7 linked regions of the Homo sapiens genome follow. The protein of the gene in region 5 interacts with the protein of the main gene of each other region in a pairwise test. Each region holds a gene or a part of one and is shown on either strand. Other genes may lie near its edges. The genes, in order: PSMC2, LSM3, TCP11L1, SCARA3, CNOT7, PATL1 and TNRC6C.

Evidence for each region.
Region 1: the proteins of CNOT7 (region 5) and PSMC2 interact in a two-hybrid assay, tested with the Homo sapiens proteins (one large-scale study listed by BioGRID).
Region 2: the proteins of CNOT7 (region 5) and LSM3 interact in a two-hybrid assay, tested with the Homo sapiens proteins (one large-scale study listed by BioGRID).
Region 3: the proteins of CNOT7 (region 5) and TCP11L1 interact in binary tests that used the Homo sapiens proteins (3 or more experiments, as listed by UniProt).
Region 4: the proteins of CNOT7 (region 5) and SCARA3 interact in a two-hybrid assay, tested with the Homo sapiens proteins (one large-scale study listed by BioGRID and IntAct).
Region 6: the proteins of CNOT7 (region 5) and PATL1 interact in binary tests that used the Homo sapiens proteins (3 or more experiments, as listed by UniProt).
Region 7: the proteins of CNOT7 (region 5) and TNRC6C interact in binary tests that used the Homo sapiens proteins (3 or more experiments, as listed by UniProt).

Annotation. Positions count from the first base shown.
Region 1 is NC_000007.14:103,350,643-103,354,142, forward strand, and holds part of PSMC2 (26S proteasome regulatory subunit 7), read left to right. Parts: intron 1-2,087; exon of another isoform or gene 2,088-2,247; coding exon of another isoform or gene 2,248-2,284; intron 2,285-3,278; coding exon 3,279-3,316; intron 3,317-3,500. UniProt on the Homo sapiens protein: Component of the 26S proteasome, a multiprotein complex involved in the ATP-dependent degradation of ubiquitinated proteins.
Region 2 is NC_000003.12:14,185,317-14,188,816, forward strand, and holds part of LSM3 (U6 snRNA-associated Sm-like protein LSm3), read left to right. Parts: intron 1-3,500. UniProt on the Homo sapiens protein: Plays a role in pre-mRNA splicing as component of the U4/U6-U5 tri-snRNP complex that is involved in spliceosome assembly, and as component of the precatalytic spliceosome (spliceosome B complex).
Region 3 is NC_000011.10:33,060,072-33,063,571, forward strand, and holds part of TCP11L1 (T-complex protein 11-like protein 1), read left to right. Parts: intron 1-1,443; coding exon of another isoform or gene 1,444-1,458; coding exon 1,459-1,655; intron 1,656-3,500.
Region 4 is NC_000008.11:27,654,402-27,657,901, forward strand, and holds part of SCARA3 (scavenger receptor class A member 3), read left to right. Parts: intron 1-2,380; coding exon 2,381-2,479; intron 2,480-3,500. UniProt on the Homo sapiens protein: Seems to protect cells by scavenging oxidative molecules or harmful products of oxidation.
Region 5 is NC_000008.11:17,240,358-17,243,857, reverse strand, and holds part of CNOT7 (CCR4-NOT transcription complex subunit 7), read left to right. Parts: intron 1-235; exon of another isoform or gene 236-416; intron 417-672; coding exon 673-866; intron 867-3,500. UniProt on the Homo sapiens protein: Has 3'-5' poly(A) exoribonuclease activity for synthetic poly(A) RNA substrate. Its function seems to be partially redundant with that of CNOT8.
Region 6 is NC_000011.10:59,655,538-59,659,037, reverse strand, and holds part of PATL1 (protein PAT1 homolog 1), read left to right. Parts: intron 1-91; coding exon 92-172; intron 173-1,313; coding exon 1,314-1,508; intron 1,509-2,437; coding exon 2,438-2,539; intron 2,540-2,992; coding exon 2,993-3,082; intron 3,083-3,297; coding exon 3,298-3,500. UniProt on the Homo sapiens protein: RNA-binding protein involved in deadenylation-dependent decapping of mRNAs, leading to the degradation of mRNAs. Acts as a scaffold protein that connects deadenylation and decapping machinery.
Region 7 is NC_000017.11:78,045,703-78,049,202, forward strand, and holds part of TNRC6C (trinucleotide repeat-containing gene 6C protein), read left to right. Parts: intron 1-3,142; coding exon 3,143-3,500. UniProt on the Homo sapiens protein: Plays a role in RNA-mediated gene silencing by micro-RNAs (miRNAs). Required for miRNA-dependent translational repression of complementary mRNAs by argonaute family proteins.

The sequences.
Region 1 (3,500 bases), on a different chromosome or scaffold from region 5:
CATGCCATGCTCATTTAAAACTTATTTTTTTTTTTTGTAGAGACAGGGTCTTGTTATGTTGCCTAGACTGGTTTCAAATTCCTGGGCTCAAGTGATCCTCCCACCTTGGCCACCCAAAGTACTGGCATTTCAGGGGTGAGCTACCATGCCAGGCTCTTATTTTATTTTTAAACTTCTTGCACTTTAGTTTCTATCTATATAAATCAGTTGAAACTGAGCAGTAGTTTCTTAATTCCCAGATCTTTAGTATTTCTCAATCCTAATCCTTGTGTTTTTGACATTGTTGAGCCTTTGAGCTTCCCTTGGTTTCTCTTGCTGAACCTTCCCGTTTATCCGCCTGCTTCTTTTCTTTCCTTCATTGTGTCCTCACATGGCTTCTCTAAAGTTTTGTTTCTATTAATTTCATCCATTCTGGTCTTGGACTGTATGTGCTTCCCTAGTCAACCTTTTTAACCTCAAGCTAGCATCTGACCTCTAGAGCCAGATTTATCTCCGCCTTTTAGAATGCTGCATCAGGATATGCCGGTGTGTTGGATAGTCTTCATGCCTACCCTCAGGCTCAGTAATTTGCTAAGAGCATTCATAAGACTCAGCATGTAGTCATACTCATGGCTATGATGTATTTTAGTGAAAGGATACAAAGCAAAATCAGCAAAGAGAAAAGACACATGGGGCCAAGTCCAGGAGAAACCAGGCACAAGCTTCCAAGGGTCCTCTTCCAGTGGAGTCACACAGGATGTACTTAATTCCCCCAGCAACAGGTAGTGACAATATGTGTAAAATGTTGCTAACCAGAGTAGCTCGTTAGAGATTTGGCACCCAGGGTTTTTATTATGGGTTGGTAATGTAGGCATCTCTGCCTAGAACATACCAAAATTCTAGACTCCCTGAAGGAAGATAAGTGTTCTGCATAAACCCTGTAGTTTGTATAAACATTTTAAGCACAGTGAACCACCTTTTTCAGTTCTGGGAATGGTAGGAACCCTCTGAAATTGTTCTCAGACAAGAGCCAAGAACCAACCTTATAAGCAGGCCTTTCAAAGGATAGCAGTTAACTCTTCTGTGCAGATAACAGTACCACAAACTTAATAAAATTTAAACTGAACTTCGTATCTCCCTCTGCTAACCACTTTCTATTGTGACTTCTGTTGTGTGGTACCTAGGTCCAAAGCCTGGGCATCATGTTTGATCCTCTCCCGTCAGCTTCTCACATTTAGTCATTTGCCATGTGCTGTAGATTCTTCCTCTGAGGGTTTTTTTTTAATCCAACTCTTCCTTTCTCTTTTCATTGCTACCATTTTTATTTAGGTTCTTATGACTTCCGAGTGGCCTCACTCCAATTTGTTCTTCATATCTCAGCGAGCTAATTCTTCCTAAGGCACAGTTCCTATAATGTCAACTGTAGTGGCCCTGATTACCTCATTCTAGAATTTATGGTCTACTTCACTAGAGCCCCAAACCTCCATCTACTTAATTTCCTATTACCGCCTAATGTGTATACTATGTTTCAGCTTACCTGGTCTAGCTGCTGTTACCTAAGCATGCTTTTTCCTACCTCTACTCATACTTAGTTAAAAAAAAAAAAAAAAAAAAAAAAAAAAAAAGACCTGCCGTTTTTTTCCTTAAAATATGTACGATTGTATGATTGGTTCTTGTTTTTCATGATAGATATATTCTATAAAGTTGCTGTGAATGGTCAGTTGGGAAGTACTGAACATTTGATCCTAGGAGAAATATATATATACATCTCACATAGATTATAATCTTTTTTTTTTTTTTTTTTTTGAGACAGGGTCTCACTTTGTTACCTAGGTGGAAGTGCAGTGGCACAATCTCAGCTTGCTGTGGCTGTCACTTCCTGGGCTCAAGCGATCCTCCTGCCTCAGCCCCCCAAGTAGCTGGGACTACAAGTGCATACCACCATGCTAATTTTTGCATTTTTTGTAGAGACATGGTTTCGCCATGTGGTCCAGGCTGCTCTTGAACGCCTGGACTCAAGCAATCCGCCTGTCTCGGCCTGGGATTACAAGTGTGAGCCACAGCATCCGGCTGATTATAATCTTAAATCCTAAAAACAACTCATCCTGGTAGATTCATTTTTTCTTTATTTCACAAAAGAGAAAACAAAGTTCAGAAGTGTTAAGTGACTTGGCTGAGGTCACCCCACTAACAGATTCCAGAGCTGGCATTCAAACCCTGTCCACCTGGCCCCAAAGCCTGAACTGCTTGGATTACACGGCATTTCCCCTACGGTCTCCATCTTCTGGTCATCTCTGTATGAAAGCTGAAACAAGAGGGTAGAGTGACTTGTTCTTAGTTGTGAACTTAAATTTTTTACCACTCTGTCTATTTGCAAATGACCATGAAAGCACATGAGTATTGATTTGGGGATTACAAATAAATTTGAGCAGCTAAGCAAATTCAGAAATGCAGAATTTGTGAATAGAAAAGATTAACTGTAAATCACTTGAAATCCCAGATAACCACCGTAGAACACCATTTCAGGTTACTCTCCACATGTGTTTTAAGTGATTTTTATATAAAAACAAAATATATGCACATTATATCCTTTTTTTTAAACCTACCTGATTCACTGAATAGCATTTGTTGGATTGCTTTCTATGTCTATGTTCTGTTATCATTTTAAATTGCTGCATTGTATTTCCTTTTCTTTTTCTTTTTGAGATGGAGTCTCTCTCGGTCACCCAGGCTGGAGTGCGGTGATGTGATTTGGGCTCACTGCAACCTCCGCCTCCTGGGTTCAAGCAATTCTCCAGCTTCAGCCTCCTGAGTAGCTGGGACTACAGACATGCGCCACCATGCCAGGCCAATTTTTGTATTTTTGGTAGAGACGGGGTTTCGCCAGGTTGGCTAGGCTGGTCTCAAACTCCTGACCTCAGGTGATCTGCCTGCCTGGGCCTCCCAAAGTACTGGGATTATAGGCAGGAGCCACCGCACGGGGCCTGCATTGTATTTCATTGTATGACTATGGTATAATTTAACCAAGATCCTTAATGGATGTGTTTTATGTATGTACTATATAAAATAGGTCATCACGTATATTATGTACTTTTAAAAACCTATTTTCCTCCCAGTTAGATAAAAATTCCTTGAGTCCAGGAACTATTTGATTGAATATGTATCATCATAATCTTGCTTGATTTTTGACACTCACTTAAAACAATTTGAATCGAACAGAAAAAAAGCTCTAGTTTCTTTTTTAAAAATTTTAATTCTAGTTTCTTTTTGAATCTCACGTATTGTCTCTCTTCTTTCAGCTCTGGATGAGGGGGATATTGCCTTGTTGAAAACTTATGTAAGTCCTTTCAGTGTCTACAAACTATAGATGTTTTATGTTGAAATAAAAACTGTTTTGGTATTGTCCTTCCAAAATAATTAGAAGAAGTTAAGAAACCAAAAATTAAAAAACCAAACAAAAAATAAAATAAAAAGAAACAATTAGAAAAGAATGTCTGGCAGCTTCTAGTAATCTTCACTAA
Region 2 (3,500 bases), on a different chromosome or scaffold from region 5:
ACTCCAGCCTGGGGGACAGAGTAAGACTCTGTCTCAAAACAAAACAAAACAAAACAAAAAAAAACCTATCACGTGTTACTGTAAGTAACATTTTTATGAACAATAACTATTTTCTAAAACAAAATTTTAATGAGGAATGTCTTTGTTTTACATTTTTGCAAATCTCTTTAATGCCCCGCTTAATCGATAACAGCTAGAAGATTCTCATATCTTTTTTCTGCGTTAAATCTATCATGAGTTGTTGTTGTAATTGAAGCAAATCTGACCACACAGATAGGTAGTTGGAAAGGAAGGAGTTTGTTTTGTGAATGTTCTACCTTTGATACTACACCCAAACTGAACAAGTGGTAGTCAGTCAAAGATTATTTGCCATCTGGAATCTGAAACGGTAACAGTAAACTTTTCGTACTCTTGTTAGGTGAAAATTCATTAATCTGCCTTGCACCTCAAATGGATCTCTTACTCATGCATGATTTGGTTACATCAGGCACTGGTTCTTTAGAAAATAGTAGTTCACTGGGCTATGCAGATTCATTTTATTTCTTCAGTGTTTAAAAAAAATCACATTTATTAGTTATCACCAGTGATCTTGTCAGAAAGGTCTTTTTTTTTTTTTAAAGACAGTCTGACTGTGTCACCCAGGCTGGAGTGCAATGTCAGTCTCAGCTCACTGCAGCCTCCGCCTCCCAGGTTCAAGCAATTCTCGTGCCTCAGCCTCCAAAGTAGCTGGGATTACAGGCATGTGCCACCACGCCCAGCTAATTTTTGTGTTTTTAGTAAAGACAGGTTTCACCATGTTGGCCAGGCTGGTCTCGAACTCCTGGCCTCCCAAAGTGCTGGAATTACAGGTGGGAGCCACTATGCCAGGCCGTAGCAGAAAGAAAGGTCTTTAAGATTTGGAAAGACAGTTTCTGACCCTGCCAGGGCATAGTGGTTAAAATGTGGGCTCAGAGTACAAGACTACATGGATTCAAATTTTGACTCCCTTGCTTACCACCTTTTTAATTGAGCCAGCTCACCTAACCTGTCTGTGGATATGTTTCCTTGTCTGTAAAATGGGAGTAATGATAGGACCCACTTCATACAACTGTGGAGGATTCATTGAGGGCTACATGAAAAGCCTTCAGATAGTGACAGGCACGTTGTCACTGTTAAACTGTTAGCCTTCACTGGATTTTGTAGTTCTGCTTTATCCTGGCTTTCCTCCTCTCTCTGACCACACCTGACTCCTTTGCTAGTGTTCTTTCTCCTTCTGAGTGTAAACATTTAGCATTTTTTTCTTTTTTTAAAATTTTTACTTATTTATTTATGTATTTTTGCTGGCTTATTTCTCCAAGAAAGAATAGCATTTTTTAAAATCTGCATTTTTTCCCCTTTAGGAATTTCATTTATTAACTATTGTTTAGTGGTTATTGTTTTCTTAACATGGACACAATCATAAGTACTAAGATGCACTTTTTCTTAAATTTTAGCATCTTAAAAATCTGATTGCATCTTACAGGTGATGTGATAAAAAAAGAATTGTGTCATAGTTTAATTGGCAAAATTTATCCTTTTTCAGCTCAACTAAGCTTACAAATGATACCTTAAATGTGATAAAATATGGAATATGTGGCTTTAATATTCTGCTTTATTCATGTAACATCATTAACATAAGAATTTTACCATGAGAGTAGACTCTTCATAAGCATTTTAATGCTCTTGTCTTGAATTCTGCTTGTGACAGAAATGACTCTTCAACTGTGGTGTCTATTACAGAGAAGGGAACACTGCCACTTACTCCATGTTTGCAGTGAACTAACAGCAGGGTCCACCTGTGTCATCCCTAGTAGTCTGCTCCAAGTGCGGTTCCTCCTGACACTGTTTGAAGGTGCTATGTGTCTGTGCACATGTGCATTTCTCTGGGTGGGGTGTCTGTAACAGAGTCTCAGTAGTTACTGACCTCCATTAAGATTAATTGCTGCCTTGAAAGGCTACTGGGGCTGGTTAGCTCCTGAACGCTGCGTGCTGCGTGCATGTGGCCTCTCTTGCGCCTAGAGTTGCAGCTGAGAACAGTAAGCAAAGTCTATTTAGTTAATGAGTTCTTTTTCACATTGCCATGATGTATTGGGTAAAACATTTAAAATTGAATCTTTGGATGACTGAGAATACTTTAGTGTGTAAATGTGTATTAACTATAGACATAGAAAGCAAAGACAGTGATATTATAGAGAGTGTCTGCATCTGGTTCAGTGCCATGGAGAACAACTACTTCACTCTCCTGTGCGCTCTTGTTACTCCTCTCCAAGATGGGAAACCAGACTAAATGGTTTCTTACCTTGGCCCATTTTACATTTCGCTCTCTCTCTCGTCTATTGAAATAACTAATGAACATCAACGTTTTACCACCAAAACAGTATGGGGGACCCATAAACCATCAGGTTGTTGGGTTTTTTTCCCCCTATAACTTACATAATTGACTTCTAAATAATTAATTTGGCTGCTGACTTATAAATGGGAAGGTGGAAAGCAGTCAGTCTTACTCTTCTGATTCTTGGTCCTCCATAATTGGAGTTTCCATTTTACAGATTGTGAACAGTCTGTGTTATTTGACCCAGACTACTTTTTCGGCTGTCCATCATGTGTACTACCTTCCTTCACCAAACACCTCGTAGTTTGGCTCACCAGACAGTTTCTCTTGGGGACGTTGTGCCCTTTTGTAACTAAGCCCTCTGCTCCCTCTGCTTGCCCGAAGGCCTTCTACAGCATCAGATGGCTCTTCTAGACCTTTCTGTAGATTAGCACTGTAATAATAGAACTGTCTGCAGCAGTGAAAATTTCTATCTATGCTGTCATTACAGGAGCTATGAGCCACATGTGGCTATTTGGCACTTCAAATGGATGCTGGTGTGATTAAGGAACTGCACATTTAATTTTATTTAATTTTAATTTAATGAGCCACCTGTGACTAGTGGCACTCATATTAGAGCAGCTCTAGACCTGCTCCCTCATACATAACTAACTCTTTATGGTCCATGCTGAGACCATATGGTCCATATCACCGTATAGTACTTAACACATATTTCTTTTCTTACTCATTTTAAATTGCTTCCATTTTAATTTAACTTTTTGAATAGATACTAGACTCACACAGTCTTAAAATTACAAAATGCAGAAAGGAACACAGTGCAGTAAAATGTCTTCCACTCCAGCCTCTGTTCATCATCTTTACACCCCACCCCCAGACATAAGCACTATTACTGGTTTCTTGAGAATCTTCTCGTGTCTTTATGCATATGCTAATGAGTGTTAGTTATTCTCCCTTCCCCTGTTTTTTTATCACAGTGCTCTTTCCCTTTCATACATAGCTTCCTTGTGCTTTCGTTTTTAGCTTTATGGTACTTCACTGTGTAGATGTACCATAATTTAACTGTTTTCCTGTTGATGGACAGATAGCCATTTCCAATATTTTGCTAGTAAAACCTATTCTGCTGTAAATAATTTTATCTTTATCTTTTTTT
Region 3 (3,500 bases), on a different chromosome or scaffold from region 5:
TGTTGTGAGAGTACTGGGAAGAGTTTTTTCTTGTTGTTGTTGTTGTTTTCTTTGAGATAGAGTCTCCTCACTCTGTCACCCAGGCTGGAGTGCAGTGGCACGATCTCTGCTCACTGCAACCTCCGCTAGGCAGAGTTTTGTAGCCTGAAGAGCCGTAATATTAAGGCCTGGACCTGGAAGCTGGGGCATAGTGGAGGACTCACTGGTAGGGTGGAAGCAGCTACAGTGCCTGCATCTAGCACTTAACTCACAACATGAAAGCCTGGGTTTCCCAAAGCTGGGGGGTTACGGAGAATATTATCAGCAGAAGAGAGGGTGAAGCCAGATGGCCCAGGAGTCATGACCGAGAGCTCAGGGTAAACTGGAGCTGCATCCCCCTGCCCCAGTGAAGAGCAAACCACAGCTGTGACCTTGGCCGCCCACTTGGTTTTAAGGAAGCAGGAAGCCTCCACTAACAGAGCTGCAACACCTGCTGGGACCTGACAGGTGCAGTTTTTATCAGATGATGTGTGAGATCCTCCAGCTCTCTCTCTGTATCCCTCAGAGTGCCCCCTGCATTACCAAGCTTAGAAAAGCAGGGGTGCAGGAGGGCTGCTGAAAGCCAGATGGGGCTTCCCTGACAGAGTTCACTTTCCCCCAGGTTGAAAGGAAGCCAGATTGATACAAGGTTAAGATCTAAACAAGGAAAAGCCTCATCATCAGTGTAGAGGATACTTTACACAGGGAAACTCTAGCTGGTGTCTCATCCTATCTGTCTCTAGAGCTGGAGTTGCCAGGGCTTTGGGGTCCATCTCATGCAGTGGTCAGGATGGGAGAGAAGGGAAGGAAGGTTTGTTAAATACCAGGTGGGTGGCAAGGCCTGGCTAGGTGTCATGTATTTGTTACTATTATTATTATTATTTTAGACAGGGTCTAGCTCTGTCCCCCAGGCTGGAGTACAGTGGTGTGATCACCACTCACTGCAACTTTAACCTCCAGGACTCAAGTGATTCTCCTGCCTCAGCCTCCCAGCTAGCTGGGGCTACAGGCATGTGCCACCATGCCCAGCTAATTTTTGTATCTTTTGTAGAGACAGAGCCTTGCCACATTGCCCAGGCTGGTCTCGAACTCCTGGGCTCAAGCAGTCTTCCCACCTCAGCCTCCCAAAGTGCTGGGATTACAGGCATGAGCCACCATGCCTGGCTTATTCATTATCTTGTTTAATCCTCACAACAGCCTGTGAGGTGGGTGTTGTAAATTTGCCTATATCAGGCATCTGAAACTCAGACACATTATGACTTGCCTGAGATCCCTCAGTTAGTCATTGGCACTACTATGATTTGATCCAAGTTTTATTTGATTCCAAAGTTCATACTTTATACTTTATCACTCCACCAGGACATCGATTGTCCCTTAAGTAATTCCGAGAAGCATCCCTTCTTGGTGTCAAGGTAATGTGTGCAGCTTTGTTTTTCACAGATTCCCTGGACTTTGTCACCCAGTGGCTGGAAGAAGCCTCAGAGGACCTTATGACTCAGAAGTATAAACACGCCCTGCCAGTGGGGGGAATGGCTGCTGGCTCTGGGGACATGCCCAGGCTGAGCCCTGTTGCTGTCCAGAATTACGCTTACCTGAAGCTTCTGAAGTGGGACCACCTCCAGAGGCCGTTCCCCGAAGTAGGTCTCCTGAGCCATCTCACTACTCATATTTGTTTTTGTGCTGCTGAACTTTTTAAAAAGAATAGCTTTGGCCAGGCACGGTGGCTCACTCCTGTAATCCCAGCACTTTGGGAGGCAGAGGCAGGCAGATTGCTTGAGGTCAGGAGTTCAAGACTTGCCTGGGCAACATGGCAAAACACCCTCTGTACTAAAAATACAAAAAATTAGCTGGGCGTGGTAGCAGGGGCCTGTAGCCCCAGCTACTTGGGAGGCTGAGGCAGAGAATTGCTTGAACCTGGGAGGCGGAGCTTGCAGTGAGCCAAGATTGCACCACTGCACTCCAGCCTGGGCGACAGAGCGAGACTCTGTCTCAAAAAATAAAAATAAATAAGTAAATAAATAAAATAAAAAATAAAAAGAATAGCTTTATTCTGATATAATTCATGTACCAGAAGATTCTCCCTTTTAAAGTGTACAACTCAGTGTTTTCTAGTATAGTCACAGAGTTACGCATCCATTGCCACTGTTTAATTGAGAACATTTTCATCACCTCCAATAGAAACGCTGCATCCATCAGCGGTCACTGCCCTCCCCCCCTCCCTCCAACGCCTGAAGCCACAGATCTGCTTTCTGTCTCTATGGATTTGCCTATCCTGGACATTTTATTTAAATGAAATCATACACTACCAGCCTTTTGTGCCTGGCTTCTTTCACCAATGTTTTTTCACGTTGTAGCACATATAGCAGTAGTTTAGTCCTCTTTTCCACTGTGTTTTTTTTGTTGTTGTGGTAAAATACACATAACATAAAATTTACCATTTTAACCATTTCTAGTTGTCCAGTTCAGTGGCATTAAGTGCATCCACATTGTTGTGCAACCATTGCCACCAGCCACCTCCAAAACATTTTCATTTTTCCTTCTGTGAAACTGTCTTCCCACCAAACACACCAAACAGTAATTCCCATTGCCCCCGCCCTCTGGCCCCTGGCAGCCACCATTCTACTTTGAGTCTCTGTGAATTGGACTAATCCGGGTACTTAATATGAGTGGAATTATACAATCTTTGTCCTTTTGGGTCTGGCTTATTTTACTTAGCATAATGTCTTCAAGGTTCATTTATGTTGTAGTATGTGTCAGTGTTCCCTTTCTGGGTTTTTTAAAATTTTTTTAAATTTTAGAGACAGGGTCTCATTGAATTGCTCAGGCTAGGTGGTACGACAGCTCACTGTAACTTTGAACTTCAGGGCCCAAGTGATCCTCCTGCCTCAGCCTCCTGGGTAGCTAGGACTACAAGAGTGTACCACCACCCCCAGCTAATTTTTAAGTGTGTTTTTTGTGGAGACAGGGGTCTCGCTATGTTACTCAGGCTGATCTTAAACTCCTGGCCTCAAGTGGTCCTCCCTCCTTGGCCTCCCAGTGTTGGGATTACAGGCATGAGCTACCATGCCCAGCCCTCCTTTCTTTTTTAGGCTGAATAATATATTTTACTGTATGGATGTACCACATTTTGTTTATTCATTCATCAGTTGACAAACATTTGGGTTGTTATTATAAATTATGCTTCTGTGAATATTCCAGTACAAGTTTTTGCATGGACATATGTTTTTACCTCTCTTGGTTACGTACCTAGGATTAGAATTGCTGGGTTACATGGTGACTCTTAAGTTTAACATTTTGAGGAACTGCCAAACTGATTTCCAAAGCAGCTGCATCATTTTACCATCCCACCAGCAATGTATGAGGCTCCAGTCTGTGCTGCTGAATTTTTCTCCTGTTTTTACTCATCTTGATGGAAACCACAACAGAGGTGTGGTTGTTCACAGCTTTATCTAAAGAAACTTCTTCCCCTTCCATGCTGAACA
Region 4 (3,500 bases), about 10 Mb from region 5:
AAAAGTGAGGAAAAATGGCTTAAAAAGCAAATATATAATTATTAAGCCTGAGATGCACAATGAAGAAATAAGCAAGGCCAGGTGCAGTGGCTCATGTCTGTAACCCCAACACCTTGGGAGGCCAAGGTGGAAGGATCACTTGAGCTCAGGAGTTTGAGGCCAGCCTGGGAAACATAGTGAGACCCCAACTCATTTCAATTAAAAAAAAAATTGAAAATTAACTGGGCATGGTGGCACATGCCAGTAGTCCTGGCGGCACATGCCAGTAGTCCTGGCTACTTACGAGGCTGAAGTGGGATGATCACTTGAGCCCAGAAGATTGAGGCTGCAGTGAACCATGATCACACTGCTGCACTCCAGCCTGGGTGACAGAGCAAGACTGTCTCACAAAAAAAAAAAAAGAAAAAGAAAAAAAGAAAAAAGAAATGAACAGGTGAATGAATTATATGGAGTGGAGTGAGCCTCGGCTGTTGGCTTGGAAGTAGAATTAATGAAGCATAGGAATAGGAATCAAAGTCACTCAGTCTCTTTGTGTCTTTGTTCATCTATGCATGAAATCTTAATTGTAGGGAGGCTCAAATGGAATCATAACTATTGTAAACTGTACAGTGCTTGTCTCATGTAACAGCATGTGCTTATTCCCAAACTCTCTCAACATGTTGCTGTTACTAATTAAGTAAATCTACTGACAGCTCTGAGATGTACAATATTAACTGGAGCCTGGAGATTCCAAATAATTTGAAAGCATAGAATTTTGGTGCTGATGAGAGCCTTAGAGTCATCGAGCTCCACATTTTCATTTTACATATGATTGAACTGAGCTCAAGAAAGGGTAACTGACTTGCCCAAAGTCACCCAACAAATGTGATGTAAACTAGGACTAGAAGCTGTGTTACTCAGTGCTCTTGGTGGTGCTAATTCTTTCCCCTTGTACTTGACCTTAAGAGGATCTGTGGGAAGCATCTTGCTGAACCTCAGAACAACCCATGCCCTCCCTCACTACCAGGCCCATTCAGGCACCCGCTGGAAAAAGCCAGGCGTCCTGCTGCTGCCAAGACGTGCTCTAACCACTGGCCAACATGGCCCCCTTAGTAGAGTGCAAGGCTGCCCGTGGGGTATAAAGTGGTGTAATCTTTTCTGGGCAGCAGTTTGGCAGCTTGTATCAAGGACTTCAAAAATGTTAATACCCTAGGTCCCATAATTCTATTTTAAGCAATTTATCCCAAGAGAATTATCATATACACATAACCATCATATATAAGGATTATTTCTAGAATTAAGCATTACTTATATTTATATATCAAGTTTTATTTATGAGCTCAGAAGAAGAGGTACTTTAAGTGTCCTCAACAGTAGGAGATTCTTACATAATTGCTGTATTATTTATATAGAGTGCCATGCAGATACCAAAAGTAGTGATTTTAAAGTGATTTAACCCTGGATGGAAAAATGTCCGTGACATGATACTGATAAAGCAGCATCAAAGAAAACAGATGAGATGTTCAGAACATCCCAGTTTTGCTTTTGTTGCCTAAGAAAGTACAGTAGTCCCCGTTTATCCGCAGTTTCAGTTACCCTAGGTCAATCGGCAACATCATGGCTTGATGATCCCCCTTCTGACATATGGTCAAGGTCAGTAGTAGCCCAATACTAAGTCACAATGCCTATGTCATTCACCCCACTGCATCTCGTCACGTAGGCATGGTGTCATCTCATGTCAGCACAAGAAGAAGGATGAGTATGGTACAATAAGATATTCTCAGATACAAAGAGACCATATTTACATAACTTTTATTATAGCATACTGTTCTAATAGTTCTATTTTATTATTAGCTGTTGTTAGTCTCTTACTAGGCCTAATTTATACATTAAACTTTATCTTAAGTACGTATGTATAGGAAAACACATAGCATATTTAGGGTTCCATACACTGAGGTTTCAGGCATCCACTGGGGGTCTTGGAATGTATCCCCTGCAGGTAAGAGGGGAACACTGTATATATCTATGTAGCTGAAGAATGGTTATCAATGTAGACAAGACTAGAAGAAATCCATGAAGACACTGATGGCAGCAACCTTTGGGTGGTAGGAATAAGAATAATTTTTTTTTAATTTTTTTTCTGAATTTTCCCTGTTCCATTCTGTGATCAGGTCCTATTTCTAACATGTGGGGTGTGGGGTGAGTTATTCTGTTTCTAAAGGGCCTTGTGGCAAACTCTGGCCATAAGAAGTATCTTCCCTAACCGCCATGAAGAAGCCTGAGAGAAGAAGGGTGAAAGGTTTTGGTTGCAGAGGAGCTGATAAAGATGCCTTCTCAAGGAATGACTGCTGTTTCTCTGAGCTTAGACCCTGCCCCAGCTTCTCATCTGTTTTCCCTACAGTTTTCAGAAAAGTGGACTCTCTCTCCGAAGACATCTCCTTGACCCAGTCTATTTATGACAAGAAGCTTGTGTTAATGCAGAAAAATCTCCAGGGCCTGGGTAAGTAGATGGGCTGATGACTGTGATGCAGTGATCTTCAGGGTGGGGCAGGGGTGCCCTCCCCACGCTACAGTGCCCCAGCACCAAGCAACCTTCACCAGCCTTCTAGGCACAGAGGCTATCCCCAGCTCCCTGCTCCCTCCCCAGCCGGATCTCCATCCATTAGAGGAGGGCTGCTACCCTGGGATACTCCCAGGACTGGAGCAGGGGATTCTGGGTGGACCACAGATCTAGCCAGAGTCTACAGGCAGAGAAGGAAGCCAAAGATAGTCCATTCCCAAAATAGCCTCATGCATCTGAAATGATGAGAGTTTCAAGACCTTGCAAAACCTCCTGCCAGGTCAACCCTTTCCTCATCATTGCCTTAAGCTGTGCCACGATTCTTTTCTTTTTTCTTTTTTTTTAATATGTGCCATCTATTTATCTATTTCCATAATTTTAACTTTTGTTGTTATAGATTAAGGGACACATGTGCAGGTTTGTTACTTGGTTATATTGCGTGACACTGAGGTTTGGGGGGGTAGAAATGATCCTGTCACCCAGGTAGTGAGCCCAGGTACCCAATAGGTGGTTTTTCAGCCCATAACCCCCTCCCTCCTCTCCCATCTAGTATGCACTGAAGTCTATTGTTGCCATCTTTATGTCTACATGTATTCAACCTTTTTTTTTTTTTTTTTTGAGACGGAGTCTCACTCTGTCACCCAGGCTGGAGTGCAGTGGTGTGATCTCGGCTCACTGCAAGCTCCACCTCCTGGGTTCGTGCCATTCTCCTGCCTCAGCCTCCCAAGTATCTGGGACTACAGGCGGCAGCCAGCATGCCCGGCTAATTTTTTGTATTTTTAGTAGAGATGGGGTTTCACTGTGTTAGCCAGGATGGTCTCGATCTCCTGACCTCGTGATCCGCCCGCCTCTGCCTCCCAAAGTGCTGGGATTACAGGCGTGAGCCACTGCACCCAGCATCTACATGTATTCAGTCTTGCTCCCACTTATAAGTGAGAGCATGTGGTCTTTGGTTTTCTGT
Region 5 (3,500 bases):
TATTTGATAAAGGTGTACTTACCCATGATTAGAACTAAAATTGTTTTCTTAACCAATGGAAATTCATAGTGATCATTGATTTCTCAGATGATAAAGAGTGGCAACATAGAGAAGTGATAACATCCTACAAGAGTGAGTAGGTGGCATGCAATTCTTGACAGCATGCTTTCTGTGGACTATAGAGAGAATATTGTTTAAGCCAGAGAAATTAGGAAGCTAATGATGTTTTTCTTAGGGTTTTGGTGTTGAGAAAAACCTTGTGTCAGAGAAGCAATTGGAAAGTACAGGGCGTTTTCCCCTCTTTTGAACCAGTTCTTCAAGAAACTTGGTTTTAGCATTGGAATACTGTGAGCATCATTTCATGTATCCTTTGGGAGACAGGAATTTATGATTTTCCCCCCTTTCTTGGTTATAGAGTAAGTATTTGGTTAAATTTATCACATGTATCTCGTATAGTAACTTTTTGGATATATTTAAGGAAAGGTTATTAAGTTTATAGAGTTTTATGGTTCTAAAAAGTGATGTTCTTTCTAGTTAAAATATACTTTGTAATTGAATATAAATGTGTAGAATATCATCTGTAGGATTCTTTGATTTGCATCAAAAATTAAAAATGTGTGGATTGTAGTTTTGACTGTTTAGTACATAATGAATCTTAAAACTATTTTACAGGACACCGAGTTTCCAGGTGTGGTTGCAAGACCCATTGGAGAATTCAGGAGCAATGCTGACTATCAATACCAACTATTGCGGTGTAATGTAGACTTGTTAAAGATAATTCAGCTAGGACTGACATTTATGAATGAGCAAGGAGAATACCCTCCAGGAACTTCAACTTGGCAGTTTAATTTTAAATTTAATTTGACGTAAGTGGGAAATAACTGTATAACCCAGACTTTTTTTTTTTTTTCTTTAATCTTAGGAATTGATTTTCCTCAAGTATGGTGACATGCTAGGTGAATTTGGTGTAGTTATCCTGGAAATATATAAAACGTAACATTTCAAAAGCGTGGTTTTCTTTTTTACTATGGGACCAAAAAAAATACTTTGATGTTAAAGATGTTATATTTAAAATATGACTGCAGCTTTTTTTGTATTTGGAAGACTGGGTATTGAAAGTACTTCTGATAGAAAAAATAATCCTACATTAGTTTTACTTTCAAAAATTTTGTGTGCAATTTGAAATATAGCCTTTTATAATATTTATCCTTCTTGTGAAGATTTTTGTTGCATTCATATTCCAGTTTATGAGTAGATTACATGTCAAATGCAGTAAGACGTTTTCTGGAACCTTGGGTACGTTTTCCTTTCAAGTCAGTATTATCATTAGGTTGCCACTTCAGCCCACAAAAGCTCTCTTAATTTACATATAGGAGAAGTAGTAGTATCCTTGAACCTGGTGTTTATCATATGTCAGAATCTTCATTCTAACTCAAGCCCTGGGTCTTCACCCAGTTTCCTTAGTTATAATATTTCTGTATTATTAATAGAAGTAGTCTTGATAGCTAAGGGAAGTTTTAGATGTTTTTAGAGAGGGGCAGATTATTTGCAAACTAAGTTGGGTAAATAAAATAATACATTCTTATTACAGCAGGACCTCAAATGACATTTTCTTCAACATTGTTTCATGGTAACCTTCATAAAAAATAAAATTGATTCCTGACCCGGGCCACTACCTGAGTGGAGTGTGCACGTTCTCGTGTATATGTGGATTTTCTCCCGGGTCCTCTGATTTCCTCCCACATCCCAAGGCTGTGCACGTTAGGTGAAATGGTGTGGCTAAGTTGTCCCAGTGTGAGTGAGTAGGTGTATCTGTGTGAGTGCACTGTGCCACGGAACGACATGCTGACCAGGGTTGGTTCCCACATTGTGCCCTGAGCTGCCAGAATAGGCTCTGGCTTTCTTCACCCCTCAACTGAATAATGGAGCAAATAATTATCTTGTTTTTATTAATTGTTCTTAAATTTACATATAGCTCACATTTATTTCATTGTTTAATATTAGAAGTATTTTGGTCTTTATCTAGAAGTTTGATGATTTTTTTGTGACCAGAAATATGCCGTAGGAACTTAACTCTTGTTTTTATCAATTAGCCTGTGGTAAAAATTGGTTTCGTTATCCATCTTTTGGCTTAAAGTTGCAATTTCCAAGAACTTATTGATAACGTTGAGTGAGTACTTAACTGTATGTTGCAATATTGCATTGTTCTTCTGTTTGACATCCTACATTTGTGTCATACATCCTAATATCTGGTAGGTAAAATAGTGAAAGAAACTGTAGGCAATTAATGGTAGTGCCAATGTATGAATTCTTTCTTCCTGTTCTTTGTCAGATAAACAAAGATATTTAGTATACACAATTTTACGAAAGTAGGGCTTAGGAAAAGCAGAGTAATGATGCCTGTGGTATAGTAGTGTGGCTTGTAATTACACTGTGTTTAGCCTGACTCTCCATTTCACTCTTTTGGGTTTAATAATATACTCTCCATTTGGAGACCAAGGCAGGAGGATTGCTTGAGGCCAGGAGTTCTAGACCAGCCTGGTCAACATAGACTCTGTCTCTACAAAAAAAAAAAAAAAAAATGAAACTAAGCCAGGCATGGTGGCTGTGTACCTGTAGTCCTAGCACTACAGGTACAGGTACAGGTAGCTAGCACTACAGGTACAGGGAGGCTGAACCAAGTGGATTGCTTTAACTGAGGTGTTCAAGGCTATAGTGATCTAGATTGCACCACTGCACTCCAGCCTGGGCAACAGAGTGATACTTTGTCTCTAAAAATACCTGTATCTATACACACACGCACAGTCTACAGAACCTTGTAAAGTAAACTTGTCCAACCCTTGGCCCAGGATGGCTTTGAATGCAGCCCAACAGAAATTCGTAAACTTTCTTAAAACATTATGAGATTTTTTTGTTGTTGTTTAAGTTAGTTTATTTAATGTGTGGCCCAAGACAGTTCTTTGAGTATGGCCCAAGGAAGCCAAAAGATTGAACACCTCATTTATAAAGGGTGCAAAGTACTCCACTCAAACTGAAAACCTTTTATAAGAACTACATCTGTGAAACACTGAAAATTGCCTCCTATCCTTTTTCTCAAATGATAAACCTTTATTAAAATTAGTGCTTTACCATTTCATTTGTTCCATGTTAACTTTTTGTTCAAGTGAATTAGAACATTGTTTTTAAATTAGATACTATTGTGATCTCAGTACGTGAGAAGGAGGTAACCCATCAGCTTCTCAGTTTGGATAAAATTGACAGTTTCCTTTTCTAGAAACACCTTTGTTCGAGTAACAACTGCTTTCTTAGTACAGCCTGTAAGTGACATTTTTTCTTTCTTACTCAAAAATGACTGCTAAAGTTTACTACCAAGTTTTGCTACCATTTACACTAGGGGTGTCTAATCTTTTGGTTTCCCTGGGCCACACTAGAGGAAGAATTGTCTTGGGCCACACATAAAATACACTAATGCTAACAATAGCTGTTGAGCTAAAAAAAAA
Region 6 (3,500 bases), on a different chromosome or scaffold from region 5:
GGCTCTTTTGGAACCTTGTTCCCCAGCAGCAGATAAGTCACCCAGAGAGTATACAACATTTCAGACTCTGTATGTTTTCCTTTTTTGTTAGCCCCAACCAGGAAGTCTGAATTCCAGTATCTGGGATGGATCTGAAGTTCTGAGGCGAATCCGAGGACCACTGCTTGCTCAGGTATTAAATATTTTCTCTTTACATAAAATTTATAATATCCAAAAATTTTAAGTTCCTGTCGTCATCCTTTCCTTACTGAAGGGGTTTATAGGTCTTTCATTTGCTAGAATTATGTCGACTACTGCATCCAGCACTTAGCTATGCCTTTCTTTAGCCTCCAGGGTAAAGGTTGCAAGGGAGCCATTGGAATTTAAATTTGTTAGTGTATGATTGTGATTTGAATCACTTAAAAAGTCATATCTGAGCCAGGCGTGGTGGCTCACGCGTGTAATCCCAGCACTTTGAGAGGCTGAGACAGGTGGATCACTTGAGGTGAGGAGTTCAAGACCAGCCTGGCCAACATGGTGAAACCCCATCCTTACTAAAAATACAAAAATTAACCAGGCGTGGTGGTGGGCACCTGTAATCCCAGCTACTCAGGAGGCTGAGGCAGGAGAATCACTTGAACCTGGGAGGCAGGGCGGAAGTTGTAGTAAGGCAAGATTGCGCCACTGCACTCCAGCCTGGGCAACAGAGTGAGACTCTGTCTCAAAAAAAAAAAAAACTCATTTCTATGCAAAACTATAGGGACAGAGAGGTCATCAGTGTTTACTAGTGGTTGGACATGGCAGGAGGCGTTAACTACAAAGGAACAATACAATGGAATTTCTGGGGAGTGATGCAACTGTTCTTGCTCTCTCTTTCTTTCTTTTTTTTTTTTTTGAGACCAGGTCTTGCTGTGTCAACCAGGCTAGAGTGCACTGGTACAGTCATAGCTCTCTGTAACCTTGAACTTCCGGGCTCAAGTGATCCTCCCACCTCGGCCTCTTGAGTAGCTGAGACTACAGGTGCATGCCACCATGCCTGGCTTAGTTTTTTTATTTTTGTATAGATGAAGTCTCGCTGTGTTGCCCAGGCTAGTCTCAAACTCCTGGCTTCAAGTGATCCTCCCACCTCACCCTCCCAAGGCGCTGGGATTTCAGGCATGAGCCGCTTACCAAACTCAGAGAACCATATACCAAAAAGTGAATTTTACTATATGTGAATTAAAAATAAATAAAAAGTTAAAAAAATTTCTTAAGGTATTTTTGGCATCTGTAGAGATTACTAAAACATACCAAGTTAGTTAATTTCTATTTTATTTTACCACTTCCTCAATTAGGAAATGCCTACAGTGTCTGTATTAGAATATGCTTTGCCTCAGAGGCCCCCCCAGGGTCCAGAAGATGATCGGGACCTTTCTGAACGAGCATTACCAAGGCGGTCAACTTCACCTATCATTGGCAGTCCTCCTGTTAGAGCTGTCCCCATAGGCACCCCACCTAAACAGATGGCTGTACCCAGCTTCACCCAACAGGTACCTCTCATTAACAAGCACACAGCCCAGGATATTGGGAATCTGGGCAAAATTATTTGGAAAATTGGTGATGTTGGGTGGAGGGTGGAAATTTTGGGTAGGCATTAGATTAGAAAGAAAAATAGCTAGTTAGAGGAGAAATTAGTACAAATAAGAGACACATTCCCTGATACCCTTTGCTGCTGCTATTGCTGCTGCCTTTTAATTGGGGGAGAAAAAAGGGTAGTTAGCCACATTTAGCACATATATCCTTTTTGAAGTGTTTTGCTGGCTGCCCAAAACATTGTCAGAGAGATAACTGAAAGCCGGGGGGAGTGGGAACACACAGCATTGTCCACATCCCTTTTTACCTTTAAGATATCCCTGCTTTCCCTAGAGCCTGTGCAGTCCTGTTCCATAGACTTTCCTCCACCTGAAACCAGCAGCTGAAAAGGAAGGCCAATTTGGAAGGTATGGGGGGAGGGTGGTGTTGGTATGGCCTAGTTAGGCTCAAATCCTATGAAATGGTGGAGTCACAATGTATCACAAAAGTGCTGAGCATGGCGGCCATATCACAGGGGCTTCAGAATAGGACTTAGTTAATCCTCCAGCTTTCTTATCATTCCTTCTCCCTCAGTGCTACCAAAATATATCCTCTTGGAGAGAATTTGCAAGTCAGAATATCTGCTGGTATCTCCCTCAGACAGCATGGAAGGGTGGGGATAACTGGAGAATTAGCTAAATCTTCCTCAGTTAATGCTGACACTTTACTTGATTTGTGAGAGAAAGTGGCCCAAGGTTCTGTATTTGAACCTGTAGCCATAGCAATTTGCTTAGAAGTAGGGCTTTGCATTGAGTTCGTGTCTCTACCAGTACTTGAGGGGAGGGAGTGTAGGTGGAAGAAAAACTGATTTCATTGAGTGTAGTTGTATATATGTTTGTCCTGATAGATTCTGTGTCCGAAGCCTGTCCATGTTCGGCCCCCAATGCCACCTCGTTATCCTGCTCCCTATGGTGAGAGGATGTCTCCAAACCAGCTCTGCAGTGTCCCGGTATGTCACTTTAAGCCTAACAAAAATGTGCAGTATGTATTTTCTGATCACTATTTGTAAGATCACTGCCAGTATTTAGATTTGCTGACATCTCCTAAATTATACCTATTTTTTATAATCTCCTTACTTAAATTGCTGGATCTAATTGTCCCCAGGTCAGAGGACAGTTGTTTCTTACATCAGCTCTTTTCTTACCTTTAAAAATCTAAACTCATTGTGATCATCTGGTTCCTACCATTTCAGTCCCATGTTCTACTGCTTCTTTTTCATGTCACATGGTCATGGTGTTTTTATAATTTCTAGCATTACTCTTTTTTTCTATTCCAGAGCTTGACTCTGTAATTTGAGAGTTTTTATATCCAAGTTTATACTGCATTTCTGCTGAGTTTCCTTATTATGATGTACCCCCTGTTTTATAGCATATTCTTTTTTTTTTTTTTTTTTTTACCTTAGAACTCTTCCCTCCTGGGTCACCCTTTTCCTCCTAGTGTTCCTCCTGTTCTCAGCCCCCTCCAGAGAGCACAGCTTCTTGGAGGAGCACAGGTAAGCCTGTGATTAGCCCTACCCATAAAGAACTCTCCTACTTTCCTAAAGTTCATTAGATAATAGCCCCTTTTTTTGCTGTTAATCACTACTTTTATTTTTGCCTTTACTTTTTCAAACAAAGTTATTGATGGAAAACCGTATTCACTTTTCTGTAGACAAAAGCAAGGGGACTTGCTGATTGTCTAAATCTAAGATCTTCTTCCTCTTTGTAGCTACAGCCTGGACGGATGTCTCCCAGCCAGTTTGCACGGGTCCCTGGATTTGTTGGTAGTCCACTTGCTGCCATGAATCCCAAGTTGCTACAAGGGCGAGTTGGGCAGATGCTTCCCCCAGCACCAGGCTTCCGTGCCTTCTTTAGTGCTCCACCCTCCGCTACACCACCTCCACAGCAGCACCCTCCTGGCCCAGGACCCCA
Region 7 (3,500 bases), on a different chromosome or scaffold from region 5:
AAGGAACTCACCTTCAGAAATTAGACACTTAATTCAGGGATCAGATGGGTTTTTAATCAGACTGCTCTGCCGCCTGATTTGTATCACATTTAAACATAAAAATTAAAAATTTTGAAAATATTTTTTCAATAGAAGAAAGTATATAGAAAATAATATAACTGTGTTCACAATAGAGATTTAACATAATATCATGCCATATTTGCTTCAGGGCTCTCTATTTTAAAAATGTTATAGGTATCATCCTCTAACCCCATTCTGGTCCCCATCCCACCCCCAGAGGGAACCACAATTCAAAAATTGTAGTGTTGTGTCACTTTCATCTACAGTGTGACATTAAAGTGCATTTCTTGATTATTAATGAGGTTGATTATTGTTTCATATGTTAATGGCTTATGAGTTTTCTCTTTTCTAAATTGCCTGTTCCTATCCTTTTCCCATTTCTGGTTGGGTTGTTGGCCTCTTTCTTACCGATTTTTAGGATTCTTTTTTTTTTTTTTGAGATGGAGTCTCACTGTGTTGCCCAGGCTGGAGTGCAGTGGCACAGTCTCGGCTCACTGCAACCTCCACCTCTTGGGTTCGAGTGATACTCCTGCCTCAACTCCCAAGTAGCTGGAACCACAGGCGTGCACCACCACACCCGGCTAATTTTTGTGTAAGTAGAGACGAGGTTTCACCATGTTGGCCAGGCTGGTCTCGAACTCCTGACCTCAGGTGATCCACCTGCCTCGGCCTCCCAAAGTGCTGGGATTACAGGCGAGAGCCACTGCGCCTGGCCGGGAATTCTTTAAGCTGATAACCATACATTATCTGTTGTATCTTCTCCCTGCCTGTGGCTTGTTTTTTTAGCTTTCATTATATGATATCTTTTGTTATATAGATGTTTTTAATATTAGCATAGTCAAATTTATCACCTGTTTATGTCTTACGTATTTCATGTCTTCTACAAGATGATACAATGTCCAAGGTCATAGAGATGGTCTCCTTTGCTTCCTTAATAAGCTTTAAGAAGTTTTGCTTTTCCTAATTCGCTCTTTACTTTATCTGGCATGTATACGATATAAGGGATCTACTTTCATTTCATGTGGCTAGACAGTTGTCCAACAGCATTTATTAGCCACCAGCTTATAATGCTATCCTTCTTTCAAACGTGTCATATAATTGAGTATGAACCTGTCAAATTGGGGGCTGAGCAATCCTCAAGTCCTCAAAGTAGACCATTAACAAAGGGCAGATCATTTTACAGTGTGACTGTTGTGGAATGGAACCAATAATACTGTGTATTCGAATGGCACCTCACATATGGAAAAGAATGCATTGGTCAGCCAGGTTGTTAACCCCCTGCTTTCTCGGTGTGGGTTGCAGTGAGTGCTGTCTTAGTCAAGAGGCAGCCTGCCTTATGGCACAACCTGTCCATGAGGGAACCCAAACTGATGGTAAAATGAAATGTGGTAATATTTGCTGGCAACAAGCCATAATCTCTGTGTGTTAACTTGGTCTTATTTTCTGTGTTAAATGAGGAATGGCTTATTTATCTCTTTAGTTAGTTATTATATTAGATAGTTTTTAGAGTATGTGCAAAACCAAATTGTCATAAACCAGGGTTATAGAGCCAACCCCTAATAATTGGCAGTGAAAAGAACCTAGTCATTTTATAGCAGTTTCAACATTTAAAGTTTTCTGTTGCCTGTCTTCATTTTTCCTTTGTAGTTTTCACCTGGAATTACGTACCTACTTTGAAATCACCTAGAGCATAATTCTAAAATCATTACATTACTCTTAAATCAGGCAATAAAAATCTCTTTTAGGTTGATATTAGCTTTAGTATGGTCTTTCTAATGCTAATTTTTTTTGCACACTTCCTTTTTTTCCTTTAGCTCCATCAAACTTTAAAAGAGAATTTATGTGGGAAATTCATGTTTTAATTGTCCATACGATTTTTCTTGTTAAAATAAATTTGAAGAGAACATAATTAAAAGGATCTAAAAGAGAAGAAAATATTTTATTGCAGTTTATTTGTATATTGTAGTATTTAGAGAAACTCACCAAGGATTTCTAAATCACATATGTGAGTTTGTTGTATGTTTGGGTTAAATTATTTTTTTAACATTTCTTTTACTTTATTTTTTAGTGATACATACTTGGAATAAAGTCTGCCAAAAAGTTGATCGAAATATAAGTTTGACTGCAATGTTGGAAATACTCAAATAATTGTTAAAGTCATAGGAAATAAAATGTAGATCCAAACAGGGGATTCTTTAAAAGGACCCGAAGAGTTAAATACTATAAGAAGATGGCATATAAAGTTATTCTAGGGATCTCCAAAGAAAAGGCTCTAAAGAAATAGAAAACAAGGATTGAGAGAATCTTTAGAGATCCAAAAAGATAGCACTTGTGGGGCTGAGATTCTTCTTCCTTCTTTTTCTTCTTTTAGTGATGTCCTTGAGCTACAGATTTTTTTTTTTTATTATGAATGTGCAGGAGACAGTGATAAACCAAATTGCAGATAAGATCAGATAAAGTAGTATACAGCTAATTAAACATTTCTAATCCTTAGTATTTTTGATAACATAAGATAGCATTGTCTCATATGTCTTTTCTCTCTTTCCTTCCGTCACCACTTCCCCCACCCCAAATATTGGTTCTGTTATGATTCTGCAATGCAATTTACAATTTTTTTCTACTGAAAGCCATGTTTCGCCTCTATATAATACTGTAACCTAATTAGAGGTCTTAAAGAGAACTACAAGTTTTATTCAAAACTCTACGTGAACTTACTGTCATTGCCAGTGTTTCTCAGTCTCTGTATTTATAGGAGTTGCAAAGTCACTTATCTTTCAAAGCTGCCTTTACTACAGATGCTTTCAGAGATGCTGATGTGCTAACGTGCATTGTGAGTATTCTCCAGGGGGAATAATAGTACAGTGTAGTGGTAAGAATTGATATAATTTTAAAAACATTAACGCTCTTTAAAATGGGATCTATTAAGAAGACAAATAGCTTTTTTCTTTAAGTCATTTTTTTAGTGTTTGTCATTCAGATTTGAAGACTTGAAATAAAGAGCTTCCCCAAAGACTAGTTAACAGTTGATTCATTGACAAATGAGTAGAAAATCTAATTTTGAATTTTGTTTCATCTTTTTCAGATCTCAGTCATAGTGGATTGGCAGATCATTATGAAAATTCCCACTGGGGACAGCAGCCTACTTACAGAAGCGAAGCCAACTGCAGCTGGGATAAAGTGATAATAGATAGGACTGACAAGGAGGCGTGGCCTTCCATCACAGGAACAGAGACTGAATCTGCCTCAGAATGTACTACAGACACTGACTCTGCCTCCAACTGTGGCTCAGAGAACAGTAGCATGGCTACAGGGAGTGCCCAGGGCAACTTCACTGGACATACCAAGAAGACAAATGGCAATAATGGCACCAATGGCGCACTCGTCCAAAGCCCTTCTAATCAGAGTGCCCTTGGAGCAGGGGGAGCGAACAGTAATGGAAG